Regions from separate parts of the Homo sapiens genome. Here region 2 is reported to be linked to region 1. The links are microRNA targets in miRTarBase. Many come from high-throughput screens and were not tested one by one. Region 1 holds a microRNA gene; the other region holds the end of a gene's coding sequence.

Region 1 (3,394 bases):
AGAGACAGGATTTCATCATATTGGTCAGGCTGGTCTCAAACTCCTGACCTCAGGTGATCTGCCCACCTCGGCCTCCCAAAGTGCTCAGATTACAGGCATGAGCCACCGCGCCCGGCCTGCTATTTTATTTCCTGTAAAGACGAGGTCTTGCTATGTTGCTCAGGCTGGTTTCAAACTCCTGGGTTCAAGTGATCCACCCACCTCGGCCTCCCAATGTGCTGAGTTAGTGTTTTATCAGTCCCTGTGCATGGGGCACATACTATGAGCTCAGTACCTTTACACATTATTTCACAGGTCTATGGACCTGAGATCATAAAATTCATTTTTCAGAGTCAAGACGACTTTTCCAGGGTCACACGGCCAGGTACGGGCTGGACTGGGGTTTGAACCCATCTCTGTCAGACTCCAGAGCCCGGGCTTCCAGCCATTCCCAACTCTTTTTGCTCAAATGCACCAATCCCACTCTGGCCACATAGCCCTTGAACGTGCTGTGCTTGTTTTGTGTGTTGCCCAGGCAGGTCTCAAACTCTTGGCCTCAAACGATCCTCCCAAAGTGCTGAGATTACAGGCCTGAGCTGCCTTGACCGCCTTTCTATTTCCTCCTGGGGGGATGGGAGCACCAAGGAGATTCCAGCAAAAGGATACACCCACTCCAGCTTGAGCCGGCAAGAAGGCAGCTCCGAGCGTGTGTCCAGGCTGTAGGTGGGTGCCAGCTCGTCTGGGATCATCATGGGCACAGGGCGGCCCCTCAGGAACATTTTCACGGAGCCATCCTCTGCCAGGACACCCCCAGAGGTCAGGCACTGACACCAGCCCCATCCCTATTCCCTCTCCTCTTCCAGCTTTATTTATTTATTTTTTTAAAGGCAGGGAAACTGAGGCCAGAGAGGCAAAGACCCAGTAGCCAAGACTCCTGACCTCTGGCTCCAGCCTGTCACCCCAACAAGCAAGCTTCCACCGAGCCCTTCCCCATCTCCCCACTCACCCACACTGAAGATAACTTCTTTGGTTTTGCTGTCAGGAAAGGACAAAGAAAAAAAAAGGGTCTTAGTATTCAGTTCAGAAAAGGGGAGAAACCATTCCTCCACCCCCACCGCTCCCCGGAGGTCTCCGATGAAAACGGGGCCGAGTAAGGGGCAGAGCGCTGCCTCTCTGCAGGCCGTGTGCTTTGCTCGGTTGATCTTGCAGAGCCTAAGACACAGGCCCAGAGAGGCAGTGATCGCCAAAGATCACACAGCACGAAGTGGCAGGGACGCGATCCTGGAAGAAGGGAGTCACCAAGGACCCTTCCCTCCTAATCAGCAAGGTGCTCCCCAGCGCCCCCCACCCGCAGTTCCCCCAGCACACCAAACGTCAAGCAGAGGGAGAAACGGGGAGAGTTTAAGGGAAGGGGCGTGTCCCCACGCCGGTCTGGGTCCCAGGGGTTGGGTGAAACCTGAGATCTAAGCCCCGGGAGCGCGGAGAGGAGATGGGGGGTGGTCTGCGAAAGGGTCTCACCCAGCTCCAAAGCTACTCATGGCGGCGGGTGGCGGAGCTTCGGGGCCGGGGGTGGAGCCGGGACCGGCTCTGCCGCTTCCGGCCCTGGGAGGCGCCCGGGCCGCCGCGCCCCTGCCCCGCCCTCCACAGCCACCCCTGGAGCCGGAGGGTCCCACCGGGTCACACATCCCGGGCTGTGGACTCCCGATCCCAGGTTCTTTCGGGGTGGGTGGGGGAGAGTGGTTGAGAACATGGACTCGGGAGCGCGCCTGCTTGAGTTAAAACCCCAGTTCTGCTAATTCCTAGCAGTGTACACAGGTCGTCCAACCTCTGCCTCGGTTTCCTCATTTAAAAAATGGGGATAATAAGAGTACCCGGCCGGGCGCGGTGGCTCATGCCTGTAATCCCAGCACTTTGGGAGGCCGAGGCGGGCAGATCACCTGAGGTCAGGAGTTCAAGACCAGCCTGGCCAACGTGGTGAAACCCCGTCTCTACTAAAAATACAAAACTTAGCCTGGCGTGGTGGCTGGCGCCTGTAATCCCAGCTACTTGGGAGGCTGAGGCAGGAAAATCATTCGAACTCGGGAGGCAGAGGTTACAGTGAGCTGAGATTGTGTCATTGCACTCCAGCCTGGGCAACGAGAACAAGACTCCGTCTCAAAATAAATAAATAAATAAGAGTACTCACACCTCCCGGGGGTAGTTGCGAGGGTGAAATTGGTTAATTATTGGGAAGTGCCTGGAGTATACACAACGCTGTATTTGTGTTTGCTATGTTTGAGCAGAGTTGAAATGTGCAGCTTTTGACCTTGGTCTTGCCCTTGCGTGGCCTCCTAGCGCTGACCACGCCCACTGCACCATAACTCCAGCCTTAGGGTGATTTTTGTTTTGTTTTGTTTTTGATACAGGGTGTGGCTCTGTCGACCAAACTGGAGTGCAATGGCGTGATCATGGCTCACTGAAACCTCGAATTTCCTAGGCTTAAGTGAGCCTCCTGCCGCAGCCTCCCAAGTAGCTGGGTCTACAAGCGAAGGCCAGCACGCCCGGCTATTTTCTTTCTCTCTCTTTTTTTTTTTGTTTTTTGTTTTTTGTTTTTTGTTTGTTTGTTTAACGGAGTCTTGCTCTGTCAGCAGGCTGGAGTGCAGTGGCGCGATCTCAGCTCACTGCAACCTCCGCCTCCCGGGTTGAAGTGATTCTCCTGCCTCAGCCTCCCGAGTAGCTGGGACTACAGGCACGCGCCACCACGCCCATTTTTGTATTATTAATAGACAGGGGGTTTCACCATGTTGGCCAGGATGGTCTCGATCTCTTGACCTTGTGATCCACCCGCCTAGGCCTCCCGAAGTGCTGGGATTACAGGCGTGAGCCACCGCGCCAGGCCTAATTTATTTTCATTTTTAGTAAAGACGAGGGCTCGCTATTTTGCCCAGCCTGGTCTCGAACTCCTGAGCTCAAGCGATGATTCCCGCCTCCGCCTCCCAAACTGCTAGAATTATATAGCCTTAGTTTTTGACTCTGTCCAGATCTTCAGTATGGCCCCGCCTCTGGAGTTGACCACGCCTGTCATTCTGAGCCTCCCTTCTAACCCTGTCCCTGAGTTGACTCAGTTGCTTGAGAATTGACTGCTACCTCCCGCCAACGCTCCTTCTCCGGCCCGCCAGGCATTCTGATTACGTCCATTTTCACGTATTCCTTATGTGAATACCTTCGAGGCCTCCAAGTTGGCTGCACCTCTTGGCATTTGACCACGCCCCTACGGCCCCGCCCAACCTTTAAGCCACGCCCTTTTCAACCTGGCAGTGCCCCCCGATTTTGATGTCAAAGCTTCTGGAATCTGGAATGCCTCCACCTGGTCTCAGCCTCTGTTACTCCGTACCCCAGATTTTAATTTCGCCCAGGCGAACACTGTGGCTGCACC
Region 2 (3,394 bases), not on the chromosome of region 1:
ATCATGAGAGCATGGAAAAGGGGGATGGGAAGGGAGGGATGGCCTGAGGAGTGCGGCTGGATGTCCATTATAGGATGGGGCTGTGTTCCCTGGCCAGTGTGTGCTGGTGGGGTGGGGGTACAAAGTGGGTGTTCTGGAGTGAACATCTCACCTCCTCAGGCTCTAAACCCTAAGGCCTGTGGCTCAGGGAGTGGCCCGAGGGGTCTACAGAGTCACACTGGTAGCACCCACTAGGCGGGAGGTGGAGTGAGTGCTGTTCTTTCCCGGAAGAGCTGGGTGTGGGGAGCTGAGGGGGCCCAGGCCTCAGCCCTGGTGCTGTCCCTGTGACAGGCCCTCGGGGTGTGTGGGACCATGTCCAGCCCTCTCCAGTGTATCCACAGCCCCGACCTTTGATGAGAACTCAGCTGTCCAGGTGAGTCCAGGCCCCCAGTTGCGGGGAGGTAAGGGGGCAGGTCCTGACCATCAGGGCATGGGAGGCCCTTCTGCTCCCCAAGCAGGAAGAGGCGGCCACTCCTGCCGGCTGCTCCATCCTCCCTCTCACCGCACAGCTGGAGGCTCCTGAGGGCTTCTGGCTGGCCATCAGGAAAACACCCTTTCCGGACCCCGAGCACTGCCCCGCCCAGAACCCCAGTCACTGAGTGCCCAACCCCCAGCTTCCCCCCCAACCCCCCGCCCTGCCCTGTCCCAGGCCTCCCTCTCAGAGCTTGCCCCAGGGACTCTCTGGCCCTCAGGGTTCAATGTATTCTGACCAAGGCCAAGCTTTCCTGGGGCTCAGGGAAAATCACACTTTGCTACCCGAAGCTGTATCCCCTCAGATGCCAGGAAGGCCGTGATCATCTGACTCCACCCTCCTGAGACACATTCTCTCCCTGACTGTCCTGTTCTAAGTCAGCGGAGCACCTTAGGATGGAGGGGTGGAGGCGAGGCCAGATGCAGCCTCTGTGAACAGGTGCCTGGAGGCTGGGAAATGACCCTGAGAGGGCAGGACACAGCAACCGTGGGCTTAAGGTGACCTTGAGAGCAAGCTTGGCCCACTTTACAATTCTGTTCAGAGCCAGCCCCTAACATGGTGGTCATTTATTCATTTGTTCCCTCATTTTAAAAAATGTAAGGCCAGGCATGGTGGCTCACGCCGGTAATCCCAGCACTTTGGGAGGCCGAGGCAGGCAGATCACCTGAGGTCAGGAGTTCGAGACTAGCCTGGCCAACATGGCGAAACCCTGTCTCTACTAAAAATATTTTTTAAAAATTAGCTGAGCATGGTGGCAGGTGCCTGTAATCCCAGCTACTCAGGACGCTTAGGCAGGAGAATCACTTGAACCTGGGAGGCGAAGGTTGCGGTGTGCCGAGATCGTGCCACTGCACTCTAGCCTAGGCAACAGAGCACAACTCTGTCTCAGGAAAAAAAAAAAAAAAAAAAAGGTATTTCTTTGCTGGGCGCAGTGGCTCACACCTGTAATCCCAGCACTTTGGGAGACCGAGGCGAGTGGATCACTTGAGGTCAGGAGTTCAAGACCAGCCTTACCAACATGATGAAACCCCGTATCTACTAAAAAAAAAAAAAAAAAAAAAAAAAATTAGCCAGATGTGGTGGCACACACCTGTAATCCCAGCTACTTGGGAGGCTGAGGAGGAGAATTGCTTGAACCTGGGAGGCGGAGATTGCAGCGAGCCAAGATTGCGCCTCTGCACTCCAGCCTGGGTGACAGAGTGAGACTCCGTCTCAAAAAAAAAAAAAAAAAAGTAGTGGGTGCCTGTGGCCAGGCCACATCCTAGGGTAGGGGCTATGGCTGAGCCCTGCCCTCCTGGAGCTCACAGCCAAGTCCACTTCTTCCATCTGAGGCGGGGAAGCCAGCCCTGTTCCTGAAACCCTGCATCACAAGCCCCTGTGGGAGGCAGTGGGGAGGGGAGGTCCTCCCCCACTCAGACCTGACCCACAGGGACCAGTTTAATGTGTCCTTGCCCCAGTGATGACAGCTGGGGATCTGGGGGTGGGGAGTCACCCAGGACCCGGGCAGTCGCCTTTCCCCAGCTCCTAGGGCTCCCGGCCTTCCCTGCTGAAACAGCAAGACCAGTGGGTTGGCGTGGGAGGCCTGGGCTTCAAACCACCTCTGCTATCACCTGGCTGTGGGTCCCCAGGCAGGACATACACACAGTCCCTCTCTGGCCCTCATCCTCCTCAGCTGCAAAGGAAAAGCCAAGTGAGACGGGCTCTGGGACCATGGTGACCAGGCTCTTCCCCTGCTCCCTGGCCCTCGCCAGCTGCCAGGCTGAAAAGAAGCCTCAGCTCCCACACCGCCCTCCTCACCGCCCTTCCTCGGCAGTCACTTCCACTGGTGGACCACGGGCCCCCAGCCCTGTGTCGGCCTTGTCTGTCTCAGCTCAACCACAGTCTGACACCAGAGCCCACTTCCATCCTCTCTGGTGTGAGGCACAGCGAGGGCAGCATCTGGAGGAGCTCTGCAGCCTCCACACCTACCACGACCTCCCAGGGCTGGGCTCAGGAAAAACCAGCCACTGCTTTACAGGACAGGGGGTTGAAGCTGAGCCCCGCCTCACACCCACCCCCATGCACTCAAAGATTGGATTTTACAGCTACTTGCAATTCAAAATTCAGAAGAATAAAAAATGGGAACATACAGAACTCTAAAAGATAGACATCAGAAATTGTTAAGTTAAGCTTTTTCAAAAAATCAGCAATTCCCCAGCGTAGTCAAGGGTGGACACTGCACGCTCTGGCATGATGGGATGGCGACCGGGCAAGCTTTCTTCCTCGAGATGCTCTGCTGCTTGAGAGCTATTGCTTTGTTAAGATATAAAAAGGGGTTTCTTTTTGTCTTTCTGTAAGGTGGACTTCCAGCTTTTGATTGAAAGTCCTAGGGTGATTCTATTTCTGCTGTGATTTATCTGCTGAAAGCTCAGCTGGGGTTGTGCAAGCTAGGGACCCATTCCTGTGTAATACAATGTCTGCACCAATGCTAATAAAGTCCTATTCTCTTTTATGAGAAAGAAAAAGACACCGTCCTTTAAAGTGCTGCAGTATGGCCAGACGTGGTGGCTCACACCTGCAATCCCAGCACCTTAGGAGGCCGAGGCAGGAGGATCCTTGAGGTCAGGAGTTCGAGACCAGCCTCGCCAACATGGTGAAACCCCATTTCTACTAAAAATACAAAAAATTAGCCAAGTGTGGTGGCATATGCCTGTAATCCCAACTACTCAGAAGGCCGAGGCAGGAGAATTACTTGAACGCAGGAGAATCACTGCAGCCCAGGAGGCAGAGGTTGCAGTGAGCCGAGATTGCACCACTGCACTCCAGCCTGGGTGACAGAGCAAGACTCCATCTCAGTAAATAAATAAATAAATAAAAAGCGCTGCAGTAGCTGTGGCCTCACCC

What was found. Region 1 holds the annotated microRNA hsa-miR-330-3p (GCAAAGCACACGGCCUGCAGAGA, at 1,150-1,172, opposite strand). A microRNA usually pairs through its seed, bases 2 to 8, with sites in the 3' UTR of a target mRNA and lowers its output. Matches are read on the target gene's strand: a 7mer-m8 pairs with bases 2 to 8, a 7mer-A1 pairs with bases 2 to 7 and ends in A, and an 8mer does both.
Region 2: the mRNA of SFTPB is a reported target of hsa-miR-330-3p. Seed matches in the 3' UTR shown: 7mer-m8 at 2,802-2,808.

The regions. Positions count from the first base shown.
Region 1 is chr19:45,637,860-45,641,253 of GRCh38, forward strand. It overlaps MIR330 (microRNA 330), which reads right to left and starts at 1,228; the gene lies at 1,135-1,228. EML2 (EMAP like 2) reads right to left here and starts at 1,538. Exons shown (of 19, transcript NM_012155.4): 1 at 1,498-1,538; 2 at 986-1,014; 3 at 646-775. The coding sequence starts at 1,517. RefSeq lists enhancers at 364-1,215, 452-746, 1,216-2,067 and silencers at 452-746, 1,443-1,722, 1,743-1,832.
Region 2 is chr2:85,658,472-85,661,865 of GRCh38, reverse strand. SFTPB (surfactant protein B) reads left to right here. Exons shown (of 11, transcript NM_000542.5): 10 at 331-412; 11 at 2,184-3,394. The coding sequence ends at 393. Among named protein-coding and RNA genes, the nearest start is that of SFTPB, 8.0 kb to the left of the region's middle.